Linked DNA regions of Homo sapiens: regions 1 and 2 are each linked to region 3. The links come from fine-mapping of genetic effects on gene expression. A gene starts in region 3. Each other region holds a variant in brackets. All regions are shown on one strand. Distances are from middle to middle.

What was found.
Region 1: its variant is fine-mapped to the expression of PTOV1 in whole blood (TOPMed, PIP above 0.99).
Region 2: its variant is fine-mapped to the expression of PTOV1 in subcutaneous fat (FUSION, PIP 0.95).

What each region holds. Positions count from the first base shown.
Region 1 is chr19:49,812,455-49,820,628 of GRCh38, forward strand. FUZ (fuzzy planar cell polarity protein) reads right to left here and starts at 838. Exons shown (of 11, transcript NM_025129.5): 1 at 542-838; 2 at 161-282. The coding sequence starts at 652. It overlaps MED25 (mediator complex subunit 25), which reads left to right and starts at 5,835. Exons shown (of 18, transcript NM_030973.4): 1 at 5,835-6,021; 2 at 6,117-6,162; 3 at 6,718-6,842. The coding sequence starts at 5,888. RefSeq lists enhancers at 709-1,515, 902-1,141, 1,352-1,401, 5,394-5,753 and silencers at 5,791-5,957, 5,884-6,043. The variant C/T (reference allele first, on the strand shown) is at 3,414.
Region 2 is chr19:49,738,342-49,746,515 of GRCh38, forward strand. It overlaps TSKS (testis specific serine kinase substrate), which reads right to left. Exons shown (of 11, transcript NM_021733.2): 6 at 8,129-8,174; 7 at 6,861-7,055; 8 at 5,890-6,063; 9 at 3,544-3,679; 10 at 1,718-1,842; 11 at 1,419-1,591. The coding sequence ends at 1,435. Among named protein-coding and RNA genes, the nearest start is that of TSKS, 21 kb to the right of the region's middle. RefSeq lists enhancers at 2,931-3,225, 7,827-8,174. The variant G/T (reference allele first, on the strand shown) is at 4,764.
Region 3 is chr19:49,846,548-49,854,721 of GRCh38, forward strand. PTOV1 (PTOV1 extended AT-hook containing adaptor protein) reads left to right here and starts at 4,612. Exons shown (of 12, transcript NM_001394010.1): 1 at 4,612-4,952; 2 at 7,859-7,996; 3 at 8,105-8,174. The coding sequence starts at 4,782. PTOV1-AS1 (PTOV1 antisense RNA 1) reads right to left here and starts at 5,129. Exons shown (of 4, transcript NR_040037.1): 1 at 5,021-5,129; 2 at 176-206. It overlaps MIR4749 (microRNA 4749), which reads left to right and starts at 8,044; the gene lies at 8,044-8,104. RefSeq lists enhancers at 2,430-2,509, 4,311-4,420, 7,392-7,451 and silencers at 4,001-4,080, 4,521-4,810.

The DNA.
Region 1 (8,174 bases), 34 kb before region 3:
CTTATAGAGAACATCAGGGATCAAAGAGGGTAACTGGCTTGCTAAAGATCCCATAGCCAAATTAACAGCTGCTTTTAGAGAGCTGGAAGGCCTCCGGGGTCATCTTCAACAGGGACTATCACCCAGGCCCTGTCCCTGTCCCACGTTCCCTCCTGGGGACCTGTCATGGAAGCTTTTCCACACCACAGTCGTGTTCTCGGTCCTCGCAGAGCTCAGCTGCACCTCCAGATTCTGCCCAAACATGTGGACTCCATTGAGGGAACCGATGACAGAGAACGGGAGCTAAGGAGGGGTTAGGGACATCAGACAAGAGCACCCCCCCATCCCCTTCCCCCTTAGGACCCAAGTGTGCCAGCTCCCAGCCCCATCCTCTTTCCATATGACCTGGCAGTGCCTCTTTGGGGAACCAGGCTTATTGGTCCATTGCCTCCTCGGTCCTACAAATTCAACACTGAAACTTCCCCAGCCCCTACTGCCTTGAAGACCCAGAGTCAAAACACCGAACCCCCTTCGGTTTAGATACAGGCGTCCAAGGCCCCACCTGCTGACGGGCGGGGGCGCCGCCGCGACTGCTCCTGCAGAATAGGGGGACCCCGCTGGAGGCCGCGAGGCACAGCAGATGCACAGTGCCGCCCGTCCCCTCCTCCCCCATTTAGGACTCCCACCGCGGTCCCTCACGTGGGGACTGTCAGTGCGGGTCTTGGAGCATGGCGGTAATCAGAGTAACTCGGCCTGTGGTCCGGAGCCGCCAGAGGGCGAGATGGGGAGCTGATTGGAAGAGGATTAACTTCCCGCCTTCTTCACCCAACTCAAACAGACCCTCAAACCCTATTCAGGCACCTCCCCCAAACCCATTAGGTTCTCTTCCGCCCTAGCCGGAAGTCACGGTACCCCTAACAAAGATGGCGGCAAATTGAATTTGCAAAGCTTTCTAGTTTCTCCGAGGAGGTAAAGAGAACCAAGAAGCCGGATTGAAGATGATGACTGCGCCAAGGCGTTGCCTAGCCACCATCCTGTAGGCTTTGATGATTTACATTCTAAACGGAAAAAACAGCTGTGCCCGGATCAAAGATTGCGATGGTCCCAAAGCATTGCCTAGCAACCACATTCCCTGTAGGTTTCCAGTATATAGTAGTAAACAATGTGCCCTACTCAAAGATGGCGACCGTGGCGGGGCGTTGCCAAGCAACCACCATTCAGCCTGATATCCATTCCAAGGCTGTAAACAGCTGTGCCCTGCTCAAAGATGGCGGCACGTCGAAGTCCGAGCACCCTCCTTGGGGCGAAATCGAGAAAAACACCATCTCCCCTACAACCTTCGAGGGTGGTTGAGTCCAGCGATCGTTGCCTAGTAACCACTAAAAAAAAGGTTGTTTTTGTTATTAGAAAAAAGAAAACAAGGAAATCCTTTATTTTCCAGAATAATAAAAATAATATCATTTCTGTAATGAATTTATACATGATAGCATACCATGTAAAATGTGAAAAATCCCTTCCCCAATTTTTTTCCTAAAATACAGTTTAACGTAGACTATTCATACGTTTTCACAAAGATGATCAATATACTAACATTTCCACACTTTCTTTTTTGCCATGAAAAAGTATGTCTATTTCATCTTAATAATGTATTTTTATAATCTATTTTATGGATGTGACAAATTGATTTGACCAATTCTGTATTGATGTACATTAGGTTGTTGAACTCCTCCAGACTAGCCAACTAGTGCTGGGACAGCATTTTACTGACTTTTTAAAATGCCCTTATGAATATTTTTATTATTTTACACAGGCAGCATTTACTTGTAATGACAAAAGTATTTATGATTCATTTTTCCCTTCCTCTTCCTTCTTGCAGATCAGCCCATCTTTCTAGCATAATTTTTAATTTTCCTACTTCCTAAAGTACATCTTTTTCTCTTTTTTTTTTTTTTGGGAGAGGGGACAGGGTCTCGTTCTGTCGCCCAAGGTGGAGTGCAGTGGAACCATCTCGGCTAACTGCAACCTCCGCCTCCAGGATTCAAGCGATTCTCCTGCCTCAGCCTCCTGAGTAGCTGGGATTACAGGTGTGCCCCCACCACGTCCAGCTAATTTTTGTAGTTTTTGTGGAGACAGGGTGTCGCCATGTTGCCCAAGCTGGTCTCAAACTCTTTGGCTCAAATGATCCACCCACCTCAGCCTCTCAAAGTGCTGGGACTACAGGCAGGAGCCACCATGCCTGGCCTAGGTACCATTTTAATCTTCCTTCTTGCCTATTGATATTTTTTTTCCTTTCTCTGGATTACTTTTATCTTCCTTACAACTTTATTAAAATGTTAGTTACACAGGCATAAAAGAGGGGGCTGCTCTAGATGAAAAGAAACTTGAGACATAATGTCTAAATATGTGTGTGGTCTTTGTTTGGATCCTGATACAAATAAACCAACTGTAAAAACACATTTTGAGACAATTGGAACGTTTGATTACACACTTACTGTTGGATGATACTAAGAAGTTAATTTTGTTACAGGTAACAATGGCATACTAGTAATGTAAGAAAGTGTTCATAAAATTGGAAAGATGCCTGCCAAGCACACAGGAGTAAAATCATATGATTGTATGGATTTGAAGGCTTCAGCAGGCCAGGCGCGGCGGCTTACGCCTGTAATCCCAGCACTTTGGGAGGCCAAGGTGGGCGGGTCACCTGAGGTCTGGAGTTCGAGACCAGCCTGACCAACATGGAGAAACCCCGGCTCTACTAAAAATACAAAATTAGCTGGGCGTGGTGGCGCATGCCTGTAAACTCAGCTACTCGGGAGGCTGAGGCAGGATAATCGCTTGAACCCAGGAGGTGGAGGCTGCCGTGAGCCGAGACTGTGCCATTGCACTGCAGCCTGGGCAACAAGAACAAAACTCCATCTCAAAAAAAAAAAAAAAAAAAAAGCTTCAGCAAATGAGACTGTCTCAAAAAAAAAAGGGCTTCCGCAGGCTCACTGCCTATAATCCGGGCACTCTAGGAGGCCAAAACGGGTGGATCACCTGAGGTCAGGAGTTTGAGACCAGCCTGGCCAACATGGTAAAACCCTGTCTCTAACAAAAATACAAAAATTTGCCTGCGAGGTGGCACACACCTGTAGTCCCAGCTACTGGGGAGGCAGAGGCAGGAGAATCGGTGGAACCAGGGAGGCAGAGGCTGCAGCGAGCCGACACTGCGCCACTGCACTCCAGTCTGGGCGACAGAGCGAGATTTTGTCAAAAAAAAAATAATAAAATAAAAAAAAATAAAAATAAAAATAAAAGATAAAAGAAAAATAGAAACCCAATAAAAAATAATTTTAAATGATAAAGGTAAAAACCTTTATCATTAGGCTTTCTGTAAGTACTTTTCAATTGGTGATTATTATTATTATTATTACTTTTTTTTTTTTGAGACAGCG[C/T]CTCGCTCCGTCCCCCAGGCTGGAGTGCAGTGGCGCGATCTCTGTTCACTGCAAGCTCCGCCTTCCGGGTTCACGCCATTCTCCTGCCTCAGCCTCCGGAGTAGCTGGGACTACAGGCGCCCGCCACCACGCCCCGCTAATTTTTTTTTTTTTTTTTTTGGATTTTCAGTAGAGACGGGGTTTCACCGTGTTAGCAAGGATGGTCTCGATCTCCTGACCTCGTGATCTGCCCGCCTTGGCCTCCCAAAGTGCTGGGATTGCAAGCATGAGCCACTGCGCCCGGCCTGTTTTTTTTGTTTTTTTTGTTTTTTTTTTGAGACAGTCTCGCTCTGTCGCCCAGGCTGGAGTGCAGTGGCGTGATCTCGGCTCACTGCAACCTCTGCCTCCCGGGTTCAAGCGATTCTCCTTGCCTCAGCCTCTCGAGTTGCTGGGATTACAGGTGGGCACCACGACGCCCAGTGATACTGACCTCGTGATGCGCCCGCCTCTACCTCCCAAAGTGCTGGAATTACAGGCATGAGCCATCTCGCCCGGCCGAAGATTATGTTTTAAAATATTTACTGGCCATTCAAAATTTTGTGTGTGTGTTTGTGTGAAACTAGTCAGGTTTCTTTTTATTTATTTATTTTTATTTTTTTTGAGACGGAGTCTAACTCTGCCGCCCAGGCTGGAATGCAGTGGCACAATCTCAGTTGACTGCAACCTCCGCCTCCCGGGTTCAGGAGAATCTCCTGACTCAGCCTCCCAAGTAGCTGGGATTACAGACGCCCACCAGGACGGCTAATTTTTTTATTTTTAGTAGTTAGAAGGAGTTTCACCATGTTGGCCAGGCTGGTCTTGAACCCCTTACCTCGGGTGATCTGCCCGCCTTGGCCTCCCAAAGTGCTGGGATTACAAGCGTGAGCCACGGCGTCCGGCCCTGGTCAGGTTTCTTTCTATTAAAACAAATATAAAGTGGCAGGGCACGATGGCTAACACCTGGGATCGCTTTAGCCGAGGAGTTTGAGACACGCCAGAGCAACACAGTGAGACCCCATCTCTACAAAAAATTTAAAAATTAGCTGGAAGTGGTAGTGCGCGGCTGTGGTCCCAGCTGCTCCACAGGCTGAAGAGTGGCTCCAGTGCGAGTAGAGGCTGCCGTGAGCCAAGATTGGGCCACTGCACTTCAACCTGCACAACAGAAAGAGACCCTGCCTCAAAAAATAAAAATTAAAATTAAAAGATAATAGTAATGAAGTGTTTCTATTTTTCTATATTGTTATTCATCAGTAAGATTTATTTGCGTAGTACATTTCTGTCAACAAACACGCTAGAAAGATTTTCCCAGTTGGCCGTATATTTTTCAACTTGGTTTATACAGTCTTTTGGGAAAAATTAATGAAGACTACGTTTTCTAACTTTGCTGTAGTGCTAAGAAACTCCATGGCAGTCATTAAGATTTTTTCCCTTCAGATAGTTTTCGGGTTTCATTTGTTGCACTTACATTTTTAATCCACCTGGAATGTATTTACGTTCTAAGCCAGTTTCTGGCTCCTCTCCCAGAAAACAACGCTCAGGTGTTGCTTAGCAACCCGCACTTGGTTTGGTGTTCGGCTTCTTTTCGGGGGGGAAAACAACTGCCCTCCCTTCCAAGTTGAGGACGACCTTAAAGCGTCGCCTAGTAACCTCGTTTCCGCCGATGTGATTGGATCCTTCTCGCGTCCCTCCCCTAGTCCCCACGCCCGAAAGAACAGAACCAGAAACTTAATCTAACGGTTACAAAACAAGGGCAGCGGGCCCGGCGCGGTGGCTCACGCCTGTAATCTCAGCACTTTGGGAAGCCAAGGCGGGCGAATCACTTGAGGTCAGGAGTTCGAGAACAGCCTGGCCCACAGGGTGAAACTCTTTCTCTACTAAAAATACAAAAATTAGCGGGGCGTGGTTGCGGGCACCTGTAATCCCAGCTACTCGGGAGGCTGAGGCAGGAGAATCGCTTGAACCCGGGAAGCGGAGGTTGTAGTGAGCCGAGATCGCGCCACTGCACTCCAGCCTGGGCGACAGGGCGAGACTCCCGTTTCGAAAAAACAAACAAACAAAAAACAAAACACAAAAACGAAAACAAGGGCAGCGTACGCGTTGCATAGCAACCAGGTCTCCTGCCCCTCCCTTTGAGACAAGAGGCGGACCTGGACGCCCCGCTCAAAGATGGCGGCTGACTGAGCCGCTTTCAATTTATTTAGCTTTTGACAATAATTCCGTCTAACCCATCAGGCCCCTAGAAGGGCTAACTATGCCCTTTCTGAGTCTTCCACGCGGTGGGGGCGAAGGAGGATGGAGCTAGAACGAAGCCTCAGCGCGTGCCCCGCACAAACATGGCAGCATTCCCAGCAGCCCTAAACCGCCCGACGCGAGCGCGCGCGCGGCGCAGGCGCATTTCTGCTCATTCCGCGGCGTCGGCTGCGGCTGCAGTGGTGGTGGCGGGTACCGCACGGGGTATGGTCCCCGGGTCCGAGGGCCCGGCCCGCGCCGGGAGCGTGGTGGCCGACGTGGTGTTTGTGATTGAGGGTACGGCCAACCTGGGACCCTACTTCGAGGGGCTCCGCAAGCACTACCTGCTCCCGGCCATCGAGTGAGTGCTGTTTCCGCGACTCTAACCCCGCCCTCCCACTTCAGTTTCGCACAGTTTCTTGCCTGACTCCGACCTTTCACTTCCTACCCTCACAGGTATTTTAATGGTGGTCCTCCTGCTGAGACGGACTTCGGGGGAGACGTGAGTCTAGGGACTCCTGGGCCTGAGGGAGGAGGGGCCGGGGGCCTGGACTCCTGGGTCTGAGGGAGGGAGAAAGGGCTGGGCCTGGACTCCTGAGTTTGAGGGAGGAGGGGCTGGGGGTCTGGACTCCTTGTTCTGAGGGAGGAGGGCCTGGGGGCCTGGACTCCTGGGTCTGAGGGTGGAGGCGCTGGGGCCCGGATTCCTGGGTCCGAGGGAGGAGGGAGCTAGGGGCCCAGATCCCTGGGTCTGAGGGAGGAAGGGCTGGGCGTCTGGACTGCTGGGTCTGAGAAAGGAGGAGCTGAGGCCTGGATTCCTGGGTCTGAGGGAGGAGGTGCTGGGGCCTGGGCTCCTGGGTCTGAGGGAGGAGGGGCCGGGGGCCTGGATTCCTGGGTCTGAGGGAGAAGGGGCTGGGGCCGAGATTGCTGGGTCTGAGGAAGGAGGAAGCTGAGGAGTTCCTGGTTCTGGAGGAACGGGAAGCTGGGAGCCCTGATTCCTTCTCTAAGGGAAAAGGGAATTGAGGTCCCAGATTAAAAGTTTTCTGTCCTCCCCTCCCAGTATGGGGGGACCCAGTACAGCCTCGTGGTGTTCAACACAGTGGACTGCGCTCCCGAGTCCTACGTACAATGTCACGCTCCCACCAGCAGCGCCTATGAGTTTGTCACCTGGCTCGATGGCATTAAGTGAGCTTTCCCCCACTTGGGGTGGGTTGCTGGTCCCTGTGAGGGGCCGTGAATGAGTGATGGCTTGGGGTGGTTGGTGTCCCCGTGAGAGGCTGTGAATAAGTGATGGCTTGGGGTGGTTGGTGTCCCCGTGAGGGGCTGTGAATAAGTAATGGCTTGGGGTGGTTGGGGTCCCTGCGAGGGGCCGTGAATGAGCGATGGCTTGGGTTTGAGCTGCAGGAAACATCTCATACATTAAGGGATTGAAAGGACTTTGAGGGTGATTGTGTTTTTGTCAGAAGTCACTTTTGTGGTGGCTTCTGTGTGCTCAGCAATGTTGCCATCAGTTTAGAAGTAGGAAAAACCTTCCCATTCAGGGAGGCCTGGCTGAGCTCCAGCAGCCACCTTGTACTCCCTGTGTGATTGTCCCCTTTCTGTCCTCTCTTTTTCCGTCTACCCCTGTCCTCCTTTTCCAGATGGGTACATTGTAGCCTCAGTGCAGGGGGATGGGTCAGAGCCAGGATAGATCCCTCTGTGGCTTGGGTCAGAATTTTTTTTTTTTTTTTTGAAACAGTGTCTTGCTCTGTCTCCCAGGCTTGTAGTGCAGTGGCACAGTCGTGGCTCACTGCAACCTGTACCTCCTGGGTTGAAGCGATTCTTCTGCCTCAGCCTCCCAAGTAGCTGGGATTACAGGCACACGCCACTATGCCCAGCTAATTTTTTTTTTTTTTTTTGTATTTTTAGTAGAGACAGTTTCACTGTGTTGGCCAGGCTGGTCTCAAACTCCTGACCTCATGTGATCTGCCTGCCTCAGCCTCCCAAAGTGCTGGGATTATAGGGGTGAGCCACTGTTGCGGGATTCAGGACGACAGGAGAGAGCCCTCGGGTTAAAGCAGGAGAATCTTTCATTGAGTGCACTCAGGCCCAAGCCGACTCACGTCCAAAGACGGCCCAGAACAAAGGTAGCACTTGACTTTTATACACACTTCACAAAAGGGGGTGGGCTAGCTTGAAGCAAGCTTACAGTGGCGTGACAGCAGGGATACAGAGGCAGAACAAAAACAGTTAATCAAATTGTTGTAACAGGTTTATAACTCAGGATTGCACATAACCGTTGCTATGCAACCCAGATGTCCCTTATCTAGGTTAGCCTAGGCACGGGCTTATCCCATAACCTTCACTGTGGTGCCCAGGCAGCTCAGGCTTCTCATGACCTTCGCTGTACTTCTTAGATAAAACAGAATACTTGAAGTCATGAGTTACAGAGAACAGGAATCTATAAACTCATTCCATAAAACAAAGGAAAATTTGTTTTTTCTTCTCTCTATGTTGAGGGAGTGCTGGGAGAGTCTC
Region 2 (8,174 bases), 110 kb before region 3:
CGGCCTATTGCCTCATTTTCACCTGAAGAAATTGGCTATTCTGCCAGACACAGAGGGTATTTCCAGGTATATTCTGTCTGTTAGAGAGGGTATTTTTACTTTGAGGAACTGCCAATTCCCTATTCTGTCTTTTATGGAGGGAAATATCATAACTCTGTGCTTTCCCTCTGAGCTCAGAGGTGTACTGGCGGGGGAGGGGTATTAAATCTATGGGTGAAAAGCCCTGGGTATAAAAAAAAACATTGTCCGGCTGGGCACAGTGGCTCATGCCTGTAATCCAGCACTTTGGGAGGCCAAGGCAGGAGGATCCCTTGAGTCTAGGAGTTCCAAACAAGCCTGGGCAACATAGTGAGACACTGTCTCAATTTTTCAATGTTTTTTTTTTGTTGTTTGTGTTTTTTGTTTTTTTTTTTTGAGACGGAGTCTCACTGTCACCCAGTCTGGAGTACAATGGCGCGATCTCAGCTCACTGCAACCTCTGCCTCCCGGGTTCAAGCGATTCTTGTGCCTCAGCCTCCCGAGTAGCTGGGACTACAGGTGTGTGCCTGGCTAATTTTTGTATTTTTAATAGAGACAGGGTTTCACCATGTTGGCCAGGCTGGCCTCAAACTGCTGGTCTCAAGTGATCCACTCGCCTCAGCCTCCCAAAGTGCTGGGATTATGGGTGTGAGCCACCGCCTCTGGTCCTGGCTGACATCTTGACTCTAACTTCATGAGGATCTCAGCCAGGACCTAACCCCAGGAGTGAGGTTAACTGATTGTATTTCTGACCTTCAGAAGTTGAGATACATTTGTTATCTTAAGCAACTAACTTATGGGGTATTTTTACACAACAATAGACAACTAATATAGTTATCTAGTAATAATCAGCCTAAAAAATGTTGACTTGACAGACCTATACTATACCACAGAACCTTGTTTCTACCACCATTGCCATCTCAAAGAACTGTACCACCACCAGCACCTCTGTGGGGACCACGACATCCTGTTTGCTGAAAATTAAATAAATCACAGTGGGCTGGGTGTGGTGGTTCACACCTGTAATCCTAGCACTTTGGGAGGCCAAGGCAGACAGATTGCCTGAGCTCAGGAGTTTGAGACCAGCCTGGGCAACATGGGGAAACCTTGTTTCTACTGAAAATACAAAAACTTAGCCAGGCATGATGGTGTGCGAATGTAATCCCAGCTACTCGGGAGGCTGAGACAGGAGAATTGCTTGAACCCAGGATGTGGAGGTTGCAGTGAGCCGAGATCACACGCACTTCAGCCTGGACGACAGAGTGAGAATCTGTCTCAAAAAGAATAATAAAGTTAATTAATTAATTAAAATAAATAAATCACATTGGGCATAGAGGGAGTGCATGGTGTGTGTGCAATTCACTAGGACTCTGGTCCCAAAAAGCAGACAGAATTCATGCTAGCATGAGAGGCCATTTATTGTTCAGGGGCTGAGCCCCCCTGTTTTGGGGGGGTTCCTGCACTGCTGCCTCCCCCCATTGTTCCCGTGGACCCCTCAAGTGGCAGGTTGCTGAGATGATCGTGGAGGGAGCACATCTTCAAGTGTAGATGGTCCAGAGTGGCCATCTTCTCCCTGTCATGAGGCAGCGGGGAGTTGATGGCGGCATGGCTAGGTGCTGGGGTGTTGGAGTGGAAGGGGAGATCAGGCCCTTTCCCCAAGATCTCACCCTCCTCCCATGCCCTCAGCCTCCTTCCTCACTCTGGCTTCATCTTGTCTGTCAGCAGTAGGTTCTTGGCCCGCAGGGCCTCGTCTTGGGCCAGCCGAAGGGTGGAGCTCAGGGCCTCTGCCCTGACGTGTTTGGCTAAGGCCTGGCGCTCCAGCTCCTGGGGAGAGGAGCGTAGGCGTAGCTGGGCTTGCTGGACTGGGCTGGGGGTGGAGGGGGAACTGGATTGCGGAGGGCAAAGGGTAGGGTCCCATGGGGCCCACATTTCTCCCTCAGAGTTTCCCATCATGCCTTGAGCTTGAGACTGACCCCAGCATCCCACAATGCACTGGTCTCCAGATTCCGCTGTGGACTAAATCTGTGTCTGTCCTATTGTCTGTCCCATGATGCACTGACCTATGTCCCAGCAAGCACTAAATCAGTGCCTATCGTCTGTCTCCTAAGCTCATGAACTATCCTACATTTGATATGTGTGTGCACCCCAGTATTCTACCACATGGTGACCTCCTACATTCCATAATTTGGAAGACCCCACATCTCCTTATCCATTAGACCAGCACCTCTCACACAAAAGTCCTGGCCGGGCGCAGTGGCTCACGCCTGTAATCCCAGCACTTTGGGAGGTCGACACGGGTGGATCACTTAAGGTCAAGAGTTCGAGACCAGCCTGGCCAACAGGGTGAAACCCCATCTCTACTAAAACTACAAATATTAGCTGGGCGTGGTGGTGTATGCCTGTAATCCTGGCTGCTCAGGAGGCTGAGACACGAGAATCGTTTGAACCTGGGAGGTGGAGGTTGCAACGAGCCAAGATGGCGCCACTGCACTCCAGCCTGGAGCAACAGAGCGAGACTCTGTCTCCAAAAAAAAAAAGGCCGGGCGCAGTGGCTCACGCCTGTAATCCCAGTACTTTGGGAGGCTGAGGCAGGCGGATCACGAGATCAGGAGATCGAGATCATCCTGACTAACACGGTGAAACCCTGTCTCCACTGAAAACACAAAAAATTAGCCAGGTATGGTGGCAGGCGCCTGTAGTCCCAGCTACTTGGGAGGCTGAGGCAGGAGAATAGCGTGAACCCAGGAGGCAGAGCTTGCAGTGAGCCGAGATTGCGCCACTGCACTCCAGCCTGGGCGACAGAGCGAGACTCCATCTCAAAACAAACAAACAAACAAACAAAAAACAGTCCTTAGTGCCCTGGTTCTCTACGTACAACTGCACCAAGCCCCATTTCCTCTCATGTATTAGTCCTATAGCTCGGCCACATCAATGTCCCACAGTGCCTCACTTGTCTGTCTCACCCACTACAACATAATCCTATAGTACATTAGGTCAATATCCCATAATACAGTGCACTAGGGCTCAAGTTCCACCAACTATTGGGCTGAGTGTGTTGTGCAATGCCCCAGGAAGAGCTGTGGTTCCATTTCCCATAACGCATCAGCTAACTGGGGCCTACAGTCACTGGGTCTCCTATTTTACCTCAATATAGCTGACCCCAATGATCTTGTACAATGCACCGCCTCTCTAAAAGTTTAGAGAAAATCAGGCCTATGTTCCATGAAGCTTTAGACTGGTGTCTGTCTCGTGTCCCACAATGCACTAGATCCAACGTCCTATCATGCTTTAGGCCCAAGTCCATCTTCCGAGGTAGCGTAATGATTGGCCTGTGACTCACTCACCACCAAACTGCTTGTCCATCTCCCCATGCATTAGGGCCAAGTCCTCCCCCAGTGCCTGCTGCTCCCAGCTCAGCCCTTCCCCTTCTGCCACACACCAGCAGTACCCTTGAGTCCGGGGTTCCCCTCCCCTTGCCCCAACAGAAAAGTAAAGTGGGACATGGTGGCCCATATTCCCTGGTACCAGAATCTTCTTGTGTAGCCTCTGACAGCTGGGACAGGCAGGAGTCAGGCCCCTCTGCTTCACCTCGTCCACTAGTGAGGTCAGTGCTCGGTCCAGCAGCTGCTGCAGGGACTCCGTAGACAACTGCGACCCCTGGCTGGGGGAGGGGCGGTCACCAGATAAAGAGGCCCAGTACCAACTCCAGGACGCCCCATGCCCCATGCTCACCTGTGGAGCCTCCATTTGGCCTCGTTTCCAGTATGCACCCTATGCAACCTTCCCAGCATGCACTGTGCACCAGCTGTCCCTTGGTTTCCATGGTGCTCTGGGGATCACTACTCCTTTTTTTTTTGAGACGGAGTCTGGCTCTGTTACCCAGGCTGGAGTGCAGTGGCGCAATCTTGGCTCACTGCAACCTTCACCTACCGGGTTCAAACAATTCTCCTGCGTCAGCCTCCCAAGTAGTTGGGACTACAGGCATGTGCCGCCACATCCGGCTAATTTTTGTATTTTTAGTAGAGACGGGGTTTCACCATGTTGGCCAGGATGGTCTTGATCTCCTGACCTCGTGATCTGCCCACCTCGGCCTCCCAAAGTGCTGGGATTACAGGCATGAGCCACCGGGCCCGGCCCTTTTTTTTTTTTTTTTTTTTGAGATGGAGTCTCGCTCTGTCACCCAGGCTGGAGTGCAGTGGCACCATCTTGGCTCACTGCAACCTCTGCCTCCTGAGTTCAGCGATTCTCCTGCCTCAGCCTCCTGAGTAGCAGGTATTACAGGCACCCGCCAGCACGCCTAGCTAATTTTTGTGTTTTTAGTAGATATGGGGTTTCACCATGTTGGCCAGGCCGGTCTTAAACTCCTGACCTCCGGTGATCCTCCCACTTGGCCTCCCAAAGTGCTGGGATTACAGGCGTAAGCCACCACGCCCAGCCAGAGTCACTATTCCTAAGGGCACCAGACAGCCCTCAGTTTGCAAAGGCCGTCAAGAACTAACATTTCCCATAATACACTAGTGAAACTCGATTTCATGTTGTACTGTGAGTCCCCCTTTCCTACAATGGACCTTCCCACAATGGGCCAAAAATGGTGTATCCCTCGGCTCTCACAATACACCAAGGTCTCACTTCCCCCTCAGTGCACTGAAACCCTGCCTCTCCTCATGTTCACATCCCAGCCTTCCCACAATGCACTGGAAATATGATGCTTAAAATGTACTAAGTGTTTTTTTTTTTTTGAGATG[G/T]AGTCTTGCTGTCGCCCAGGCTGGAGTGAAATGGCACGATCTTGGCTCACTGCACCCTCCACTTCCCAGGTTCAAGAGATTCTTTGGCCTCAGCCTCCCAAGTAGCTGGGATTACAGGTGCTCACCACCACACCCAGCTAATTTTTGTATTTTTAGTAGAGATGGGGTCTCACCATGTTGGCCAGGCTGGTCTCAAACTCCCGACCTCAGTGATCTGCCCGTCTTGGCCTCCCAAAGTGCTGGGATAACAGGTGTGAGCCACTGCGTCCACCCTTTTTATTTTATTTTTATTTTATTGAGACACAGTTTCACTCTACCTACTAGGCTGGAGTGCAGTAGCGTGATCTCGGCTCACTGCAACCTCCGCCTCCCGGGTCCAAGTGAATTTCTTTTTTTTTTTTTTTTTTTTTTGAGATGGAGTCTCACTCTGTCTCCCAGGCTGGAGTGCAGTGGCATGATCTCAGCTCACTGCAAGCTCCACCTCCCGGATTTACGCCATTCTCCTGCCTCAGCCTTCCTAGTAGCTGGGACTACAGGCACCCGCCACCACGCCCAGCTAATTTTTTTTTGTATTTTTAGTAGAGACGGTGTTTCACCATGTTAGCCAGGATGCTCTTGATCTCCTGACCTTGTGATCTGCCTGCCTTGGCCTCCCAAAGTGCTGGGATTACAGGCATGAGCCACCGCGCCCAGCCTGGTCCAAGTGAATTTCATGCCCCAACTTCCTGAGTAGCTGGGATTACAGGCACGCGCCACCACGCCCAGCTAATTTTTGTATTTTTAGTAGATACGGGGTTTCACCACGTTGGCCAGGCTAGTCTCGAACTCCTGACACCAAGTGATCCGCCCACCTTGGTCTCCCGAAGTGCTGGGATTACAGGCGAGAGCCACCGCGCCCGGCCTGTACCAAGTTTCTCTTGAGTTCCACAAGACACTGATTCTACCTTGTAGAGTGGGAACAAATGAGGCTTCTAGTGCAGCAGGACCGGCTGTTTCTACAATGCACTGGGATACCTTGTCTCCCAAAATGAACAGCGCCCCACCCTTCACTAATGTCCCATCTCCTTCCGCATCTCCTTTAATGTCCTATCCACAAGGCTCCCAGAGGCAAGCCCAGCCCCGTTACCTGGCACAGCGGGCACAGTTGCCTTGGTGGGACCGATCCAGGTTCATGGAGAGGTCAGGCCCTCTTCGAGAGTTCTGAAATTGCCGCCCGAACTCCTCCAGAATGGGTTTCAGTGGGCCCAGCCCCTCCAGTTCGCTCCTCAGTGAAGCCACAGACACTGCTGACCGCTCCACCCTGAGGCATGAGTAACCAGTGCTGCTGGGTCGTCTCTTCAGCGGTATAACCCTGGCAAGACTCCACCCATTATTAGCCCACCACTTGCGTCTCCATCTGGTCAGCAATTCTCCACCCTGCCCTCCCCTCTCTGCTCTGACTGGCCTCACTTTTTGTATTTTACTTTATGTTATGTTATTTATCTGTTGACTATTTTGAGCCAGGGTCTGGCTCTGTGGCCCAGGCTGGAGTGCAGCAGCACCATCATAGCTCTCTGAAGCTTTGAACTCCTGGGCTCAAGCGATCACTCCTGCCTCAGCCTCCCGAGTGGCTAGGACTACCAGGGTGCGACACCACACCACTCCCAGCTAATTTTTAAATTGTTTGTAGAGATGGGGTCTCCGCTATGTGGCCCAGGCTTGTCTTGCACTCCTGGCCTCAAGTAATCCGCCCACGTCGGCCTCCCAATGTGCTGGGATTATAGATGTGAGCCACCTCACTGGGCCACCTTTTGTAGATTACTGTTTGGAATGCCCCTCCTAGTTCTCTTAATTGATTTTCTCGGATCCCACTTGACCCCACCCTTTGCCCTTTTAAGGTATAGACCACACCCCTTCTCTAATTGATTCCACCCCTCAGGCCTTATTAGGGCTGATGCAACCCTTCCTGCTCTCTAATTGGTGTTTCCCGATGTCGGTATATGTTCCGGAATGCCTGGCCATAGCTGATTGGCCTACCCATTTCCCTCAAGACCCCGCCCTCAGGTTGGGATTGCCCTGCCCCTTCCGGTCTTCCCATGCACTGGCCCCAATCCTCACATGGTGCACAGCTCATCCGCCCGACCTCGCAGCTCCTGCAAGTCCCGCGCCGTCTGTGCCTGTTCGCGCTGTGCCCGCTCCCACTGGCCTAGGAAGCCGTCGACCCTGCCGCCCAGGCCCCCGAGCAGCCGCAGGGCTTCCTGCACCGCCCCCTCCTCCTGATGCCACCGGGCGGTCAGTGAGGACACCTCTCTCCTGGAGGGGCAGAGGAGGGGAATGGGTAGGGGCTAGGCTTCAACAGGTCCCCACCTACCCCCACGAGATAGGTGGGACAGGACTCACCTATCTCGCCCCACTGAGACCATGCCCGTGGCTCCAGACCCACCCAGGTCACCAAATTTTATTGCACCCTCCATTTGGTGAAATTTGGTCGTGTCCTCCAGAGCCCCGCCTTTATCCCCTTCCTTTATTGGCTATCTTGGCCCTTTCCTGGTCAGGTCCCCAACCTCTACCTGGGCTCCTCCAGACACTGGCCCCCCAAGGCACTGCCCACCCTACTCTGCCCCACGTGGTGCCTCCAGGACCACTCCTCTCCTAAGCCCCGCCCACCTCAGTTTCACCAGGCCTGGACCTGCCTCCCAGCAGCCCAGAACTAAAAAGTTCCTTATTCTGTCCCTCCCTTGCTCAGGTCACTGCCTTCGGGGCACTCCCTCCTCTGCTCTTGGAGACCCCAGCCTTGTCGCCTTCCGGTTAAGATCTAGGCCGGGCGCGGTGGCTCACGCCTGTAATCCTAGCACTTTGGGAGGCCGAGGCGGGCGGATCACGAGGCCAGGAGATCGAGGCCATCCTGGCTAACACGGTGAAACCCCGTCTCTACTAAAAATACAAAAAAATAGCCAGGCGTGGTGGCGGGCGCCTGTAGTCCCAGCTATTGGGGAGGCTGAAGCAGGAGAATGGCGTGAACCCGGGAGGCGGAGCTTGCAGTGAGCCAAGACGGCGCCACTGCACTCCAGCCTGGGCGACAAGCGAGACTCCGCCTCAAAAAAAACAAAACAAAACAAAAAACGATCTTTGAGGAACCTCCCCTGTGTCCCCGCCCACCGCAGCTCCTGGAGACTCCTCCCGTGTCTCTACCCACCTTCGTTCCTCGAGGCTCCTCCCATGTTCCCGCCCACCTCAGGTCCCCGAGGCTCCACCCATGTCACCGCCCACCTCAGCTACTTGAGAACCCCCGTCCCTTGGGTCCCGCCCACCGCATCTCCTCGAGGCTCCACCCCTGAGTCCCCGCCGATCTCGTTTTCGAGGCTCCGCCCCTAGGTCCCGCCCACCTCAGCTCTTCGATGCCGGTGAACAGCTTCTGCAATTCCTGCTCGC
Region 3 (8,174 bases):
AACACCACGCCTGGCTAGTTTTATAGTTGTAGAGATGGGGTCTTGCTATGTTGCCCAGGCTGGTCTCAAACTCCTGGGCTCAAGCAATGCTCCAACCTCAGCCTCCCAAAGTGTTGAAACTACAGGTGTGAGCCTCTGCGTCTGGACACACACGATGATGACAAAGTTGAAATACCTAGAGTTTGCAAAGCATGTATCAGGCAGACCTTTAAAAAAAAAATCAGCCATAAACTATTTTGTAATTGCAAAGAAAGAAAAGAAAAATCCAAGCCAGAGATGATCTTACTCCCATTTCTTAGCATAAAGCATTTTATTATCTTTTTTATTTGTTTGTTTTGAGACGGAGTCTCACACTGTTACCTGGGCTGGAGTGCAGTGGCACAATCTCAGCTCAATGCAACCTCCGCCTCCTGGGTTCAAGTGATTCTCCTGCCTCAGCTTCCCAAGTAGCTGGGATTACAGGCACCCACTACCATGCCCAGCTAATTTTTTGTATTTTTAGTACAGACATGGTTTCACCATGTTGGCCAGGCTGGTCTTGAACTCCTGACCTCATGATTTGCCCGCCTCAGCCTCCCAAAGTGCTGGGATTACAGGTGTGAGCCACCGCACCCAGCCTATTAGCATTTTTTGAGACAGAATGTCGCTCTGTCGCCCAGATTGGAGTGCAGCTCACTGCAACCTCCGCCTCCCCGGGTTTAAGCAATTCTCCTGCTTGAATTGGAGGATCAATCAGGAGACTGTATTTGTATTCCTGAGTAGCTGGGATTGCAGGCGCCTGCCACCACGTCTGGCTAATTTTTGTATTTTTAGTAGAGATGGGGTTTCACCAGGTTGGCCAGGCTGGTCTCCTGACAACAGGTGATCCACCTGCCTCAGCCTCCCAAAGTGCTAGGATTACAGGCATGAGCCACCGTGCCCGGCCAGTATAAAACACTTTGTCCATGTTGTCATTGTGTCCTAGCCTATGTCATCCAACCTATATGTACTGCCAGTTTGTTCTTCTAGGAAACTCAGACTTGGTAGTTGATTGGTTTAACAAATGTTGGTTAAACTGGGATTATTTGGGAAAAAAAAATTGTGTATATCAGGAAAGGCCAGATTACCCCCAGATTGCAGTGGCTTGAAACAGCCAAGGTGGATTTTGTCACTCGTGCTGTATTGAGTGTCAGCTTGGAGCCCGTGCGGACAGATCATGAAGGTTGCCAATGGACATAGTAAAGGCAGAGGGGTCTGGTCTTCCATTAGCAATTATGTGCTCTTGCTGAATTCACATGTGTCACTTCTGCTCATATCTCATTGGCCAGATGTAATCACATGGCCTCACACCTTACTGGCCAAAATTAATCACATGGCCGCACTCAAGCTAAATGGGGTCAAATGCTGGCCAAGTGTGGAGCTAGAAATATATGGCAAATAGCACTAACGGCCATCTTAACACTTTAAACATCTTATTTTAACCAAGAACATTTAAACAGACATCTCTTGTACGTAGGACCAAGACCCTTTCTTTCAGTATTGGTCTCCTAGTTAGCACACGACATTACATTCTTGTTTTTGAGACAGGGTCTCACTTTGTCACTTGGACTGAAGTGCAGTGGTGTGAACACGGCTCACTACAGCCTCAATCTCCTGGACTCAAGAGATCCTCCCACCTCAGCCTCCTGAGTAGCTGGGACCACAGGTGCATGCCACCATGCCTAGAAAATTATTGTTGTTTTTGTAGAGGTGGGAGTCTCACTGTGTTGCCCAGGCTGGTCTCGAGCTCCTGGGCTCAAGCAATCTTCCCACCTCAGCCTCCCAATGTGTTGGGATTACGGGCATGAGCCACTGCGCCCAGTAGAACATCACATTCTTGTATAAGCTCCACCCACAAACCACAATGAGTCATTTTTTTAAGTGGCTTGAGAACCTAAAGACATTTATGAAACAAACTGGGGGCTGAGTCTTCCTAGGTTTTTATAAGCTTTTTCATTAAATAATTTACAGTTGCTTTACTTGTACCTAACTTGGCAGCATTTTTTTTTTTTTAAGAGATGGAGTCTTGCTTTGTTGCTCAGGCTGGAGTTGCAGTGGTGAGATCTCAGCTCACTGCAACCTCCACCCCCTGGGTTCAATCGATTCTCCTGCCTTAGCCTCCAGAGTAGCTGGGACTACAGGCATACACCACCATGCCCGGTTAACTTTTGTATTTTTAGTGGAGACGGTGTTTCACCATGTTGGCCAGACTGGTCTTGAACTCCTGACCTGAAGTGATCTGCCCACCTCGGCTTCCCAAAGTGCAGAATTACAGGTGTGAGCCACCACGCCTGGCATGTTTTTCTTTTAACAACTCCCTTTTAGTCTTTCCAAAGCAAGCAATCTGGTTTGTGTATAAACAACTGTCTTGCATTAATTTCATTAGTTTGATAGTAAATTAAACAAGAACTTCTGGCATAAACAGGTTTGGATCAAACAGCTACCTTTCAGGAAGTAAACAGCTTGAGAGATGGAAGTGGAATTGCTTAGTCATAATAGTAGCCTGCTAGCCCCAGCAGTGGGCTTCACAGATGAAAAGGAAAGTGTCTTTCAAGTTGGTGGACCGAGTTAAGTGAGATGGTTTCAGAGAGTTTTGTTGCAGTATTACTGATAGAATTTCAGCCTACATTTTCATTTCACTTTCTGACATGAGTTCCCATTTTGCTCACTCTGGAGTACACCCTGGTATACCGCTCTCCATGCTTATACAATTCAGGGCATTCAAACTCACGTGTGTCCTGATGGGTTCTGAGGGATGGGAAGGCATTAACAGGTAGAGAACAGGAAGGATGGGAGAGAGATTTTTTGGGGGGCGGCAGCAGGGGCCACAGTACCAAGTTTGGATTTAATTCTAAAGGCACTGGGAAGCCATTGGATGGTTTTGATTATTGTAGTGACAGAGAAGGCAGCAAGAGTTAGGAGACGTCACCCAGGCAAGAGATCTTGATGGTTTGGACCAACAAGAATGGGGAGAAGTGAGGATTCCGGGAGATTAAAGCAGCTCCTGTTTTTTCTCCTTCCTGCTGCCAGGTTGTCCTCACATGGGTGATTGACAGGGCATTGGAGGTACCTGTTGATAACTAACTTGCAGTTTGTGTTCAGGGAGCACTGACTCCGTTTGGCCACAATGCAGGTTGGATTTGGGGTTTAAGGCTGGGCTCCAGTCAGCCCTCGGGAGCCCCTGGGCAGGAAAACATGGACAGGCCTACGGGTTCTTCTGCCATTTCACTGGCCACTCCTCCGTGTCCTTTGCTGGTTGCTTCTCATTGTCGTGACTGCTAAAGGGATGAGTGTCCCAGTCTCTTTGTGAGCTCATCCAGTCTCCATTCAAACACTGATGACTCCCGAATTTCTCTCTCCAGGCTATGACATCAATATCTATCTACATTGTTTAGTCAACATCCGAAACAGAAGTAGGGACTCCGTCTCTAACCTCCTACAGCTGTGTCTATTTCTCCTCTCTACCTTCACTCGACTCCGCCCACACTGGCTCCCTTTTATTCCTTCTACTTTCAGGATTTGTCTTTGCTGTTCTGTCCTCTTTGCACACTTTTCCAGCCATCTGGAATGGCAGGTTGCTCACAGGTCGTTTTCTTGACTTCCCTTGCTTGCTAACTTTACCTCGCTATGGTCATATCCCATCGCCCTGTGGATGTGCGCTAGTTAACACTTAGCACAGCCTGTGATTATGTCTCTCCCCAGTGGACCGTGGGGCCTGTGAGGGACGTGGTCTGATTCGGTCGTCGCCGAGCACAGAACTGGACAGGGTACTCATAACAGATTTTTGTTGTTGTTTTTAAAGAAAAGCTAACATTTGAGTAGTGACTGCGCCAAGCAGTCAAGCACAGCCCCTCGGGCTCGATCCCCATAACCACTCTAGGGTTAGGTATTACCCACGTTTAAGGAACAAAAATCGAGGGAAAAATCTTATACAACTACTAGTAAGTAGTCATTCCATTTTAGCAGAGCGAATGAGCGAATCCACGGAAGGCCGGGGAGCGACGTGAGTGGCGAGAAGCTTGGAGTCGCCAGGGACGGCGGGCGGAGCCTGGGCGCCGGGGCTAATGGGCGGAGCCTCCAGGGACAGCTGGCCCCGCCCAGGCCGCGCGGGGCCCGCTGGGAGTTGGAGTCCCTTGCCCACCTCGCCACGTCACCGACTGCAAACCTTCAGCTGTCTCAGGCTCGGGTGCAATCCGTACCCTCAGTGGGTTCCCTTTCAGTGGGTTCCTTTGTCCCCAGGCCCATTATTCCGTCCTCCCCTCTTCCCTGATGTATTTTGGCGCGGTCTCCTGGCTCTGCGGGCCCAGGGCTCCGGATGAGGTCTCCCGCCGTCCCGACCCCCGCAAGGGGCCAGCTTGGTGTCGCCTTCGTTCTTCTGCCACCCCATTCGGTAGGGGCTCCCGTTCCCGCCACGCCCCCTGAAGTTGTGGCTCGCGCGTCTTCCCAGGACTCCCCCGCGCCGGAGAGGCCCGCAGGACCGCCGAGCCCACACTCCGCTCCCGCCCGGGCCCCGCTCCCCCGCGCCGCCTTGGTACGCTCCGGCCACGCCCCCTCGGACGCGCTTGGTACGCGCCGGGCTCCCCCGCTCGCCTCAGTGGTTCGGCCGCGGCGACCCCACTCCGGCGGCGCGTCCCCCGAGCTTGGTACGGCTCAGCCCGTCTCCCCCGAAGCCGCGCGCCCGCGCCCGCGCCCCTCAGTCGGTGGAGCCCGCAGCCCCCCTTGTGGCCCGCGGCAGCTCCCCGCCCGCTCGGCCCGCGCCCGCCATGGTCCGTCCGCGCCGTGCCCCGTACCGCTCCGGCGCCGGGGGCCCCCTCGGGGGTCGCGGCCGCCCTCCGCGGCCCCTCGTGGTGCGCGCCGTCCGCTCGCGCTCCTGGCCTGCCAGCCCCCGAGGCCCGCAGCCTCCGCGGATCCGGGCCCGCTCGGCCCCTCCCATGGTGAGCCCCCCGCCCTTTTTCCAGAGCCTTCCACGGCCCCGCCCCCCCAGCCCCTATCCCGGGCTCACGCCTTTGTCCGCAGCCCCCGCCGCTCCGGGGTGTCCCCTGTGGCCCGAAGGGTGGTCCCGCCCGGGGCCGGGTTCCCCCGTGGAGCACCCGGTGGTTCGCGCCGCGCTCTCCCCTTTGTTGCGCGTTCGGGCCGGGGTGGGGGGTTGGGGGACGGGGGCGGGGCGGGCTCATATTACTGCTGACTCCGCGGCCCGATTTAAACGCGGGCTGGGGGCGGCAGACAGGCAGCCGGCACGCTCGCTTGTTTTTCCTATTGGAGAGTTGCTCGCTCTCCGGGCAGGAAACCTGGAAATGGGGGCGGTTTTGGGGGACAGCGGCGAGGGAGGGGCCCGCGCTTTGTACCAGCGCCCCCAGATGTCGCACCCGTGGGCGTTCTCCCCTGGCGGCCGCTCCGTGCCCGTGGAGTGCGCACCTAGAATACGCGCCCGCGCCCACATGTGGGATGCTTTGATGGACTGCCGTGAGCCCAGACCTTAAACGTAAACATTCAGCTTCGCAGGTACTTTGGGCTGCACACGCTTCTCCGGACCCAAAAGATGCACATGCTTTTCAGAAACCGTAAGGTTTACCTGGGGCTGTAAAACCGCACATCGCGACTTTGCACCGTGCACACGCTTGCCCCGATGTGAGATTTCCCCTGGGTTCGCGCTCGGGTCCGCTTCTTAAATACACTGCCTCAGCGGTGTGGATGGCACAGAGCTGTGGCAGCCCTACTGAAACCTTAAACAGGCTTCCTGGGGTCATAAACATGGATACCGAGACTTAGATCACCTCCCACAACTTAAACGTACCCCTTCACTCCACTGCCTTCGCCCCTTCCTGCAGCATTCGCATCTAGTTGTTCAAAAGTGCTTTCCGGGTCCTCAGACATGCACCCCAAGGTTTTAAACCTCAGTGCAAGTACTAGATGGGCTTCCCTGTGCAATAGGGATGTCAGGCGCGCAGTTTTGCACACGATTGCCAAGATGTGAGATTTACTTTAGGTTGCACCTTAACCGTCGTTTTTAAATATGATCGTCCCATCTTGATGTGCTGCTCCTGCTGTGGAAGGTATCCCTGGGTTTTAGGCAAGCATATGTGTTCTTTACTATGGCTCCAGATCCCAGCATATTTGAAGTCCTGAGTCAACCTGCTCTCCTAGACAAGCAGACATTAAGTATGTCGCTTGGGCTCTTAAGTGCGTTCTCCTGACTTTTACCCATCTTTGTGGCAGTAAATGCATACGTGTCACTGTATATGCGGACTAGATACCTCAGGTCCCAGCGCCATAAACAACTTGTATGTTGTAAGTGTACCCTCATCTCGAAAGTCACCTCCAGCTGTGCGTTTTAACTCATCTCAGATGCTGGATGTCCGGTATGGTGCCTGAAGCCCCCGGGGCAACATCCACTCTCTGTCCAACTCATTCTAACGCCAAGATACTCAGGTTTTCTATCTGATCTTCTGACGACTGCCCAAAAGTCAGAATCACCTGCGTGGGTGAAGAATCACCTGCGTGGGTGGAGAATCACCTGCGTGGGTGGAGAGCAAGTTTGTTCAGGTTTTTCTCTTTTTAAGCACTCACAAAATAAAATTTTTTGTGTTTGCTAGTATTCTGGAAGGAAAGATCTCCTTGTGCTTCATAGAAAATTTGGAAAATACCTGTTTGTAATAAGATAAAAATAAATCACCCTTATAATTTGTTTTCCCCCGCCTGGAGGCGCCTATTACGGGGAAACTCTCGTGGGTTTCCTGCTGCCAGGCTGTTTGCGGAGCTTTCCCTTGTTTGCTTTGAGATGTTTTTGGTTTTAAAAAACAATAAGTGAGGTCAGGCTTGGTGGCCCTCGTCTGTAATCCCAGCACTTTGGGAGGCCGAGGCGGGCGGATCACTTGAGGTCAGGAGTTCGAGACCAGTCTGGCCAACATGGTGAAACCCCATCTCTACTAAAAAAAAAAAAAAAAAAAAAATTAGCCGGGCATGATGGCGCGGCTTGCAGTGAGCGAGGTTGCAGTGAGCTGAGATCGCACCACTGCACTCCAGTCTGGGAAATGAGTGAAACTCTGTCTCAAAAAAAAAATAGTAATAAAAATAGTGGGGAGAGTGCCTGTGAGTAGCATTTGTGGCGTTGCTTGGCTTTATTGCTAGAACTTTCTCTTGGTGTTCTACATGTTTTGGTCTGTGAGACCCCTCTGGGGGTGGTGTCCCAGCTGTCTTCCAAATGTTTCCCCCTTTTCCTCGCTGTCTTTCTCCTGGATGGTTTAGTCCCCTCTGTGTTTCTTGTCATCTCCTTCCTGCCTCCCCCCGGGGTCAGACTTATAAGGCCAGAGAGGTGGGCACTGGCCTGAGCCAGAGGAAGGAATTGAACTTTGGGATGACAGGGAGCTTTAGGAGAGTTTCAGCCTGGGAAAGACAGGGCAAGCTGGTGTGTGGGACAGACACAGCGCAAGCCGGCTTGTGCCTGTGGAGGCTGCAAGGAAGCCCTGGGCCCAGCCTGGGGCACGGGGAAAGCCCCCTACAGCTGGCTTCTAACTTGGGTCTCAAGAATCGATCAGGCGCACAGCTGGGGCAAAGGCTGGAGGTGGGGCTGGCTGAAGGCTTCAGGACTCTGCTGGGCCAGTGTCAAGGTGACAGCAGGCTCTGGGAAGGAAGGGTCCTGAGGGTGGGCAGCGGGAAAGGACATGAGGACCAGCGTGTGGGGGTCCTGAGGGGTGAGCAGAGGGTTTGGACATGGCCCCGTGGGCTTCCAGCAGGGGATTTGGGGCTGAATATTGGGACGTCCCCTCTGGGGTGTGTGGGGACTGCCTGTCCTTGCAGGCCCCGGCCTCAGTTTTCCCACCTATCCCCCACTCCATTGCAGGAAGGTGCTCGGGTCTTCGGGGCACTGGGTCCCATCGGTCCCTCCTCACCTGGGCTCACCCTCGGGGGTCTGGCCGTGAGCGAGCACCGGCTCAGCAACAAGCTGCTGGCTTGGAGCGGCGTCCTCGAGTGGCAGGAGGTGAGTCTCTGTGGGGCTGCGGCTGGCCTCCAGGGTCTTGTCTTGTCCCTGCGGGGACAGGCCAGGGCATCTAGGCTGTGCACAGTGACGCCCCTCCTGCCCCCACAGAAGCGCAGACCCTACTCTGACTCCACTGCAAAGCTGAAGCGGACCCTGCCCTGCCAAGCCTACGTGAACC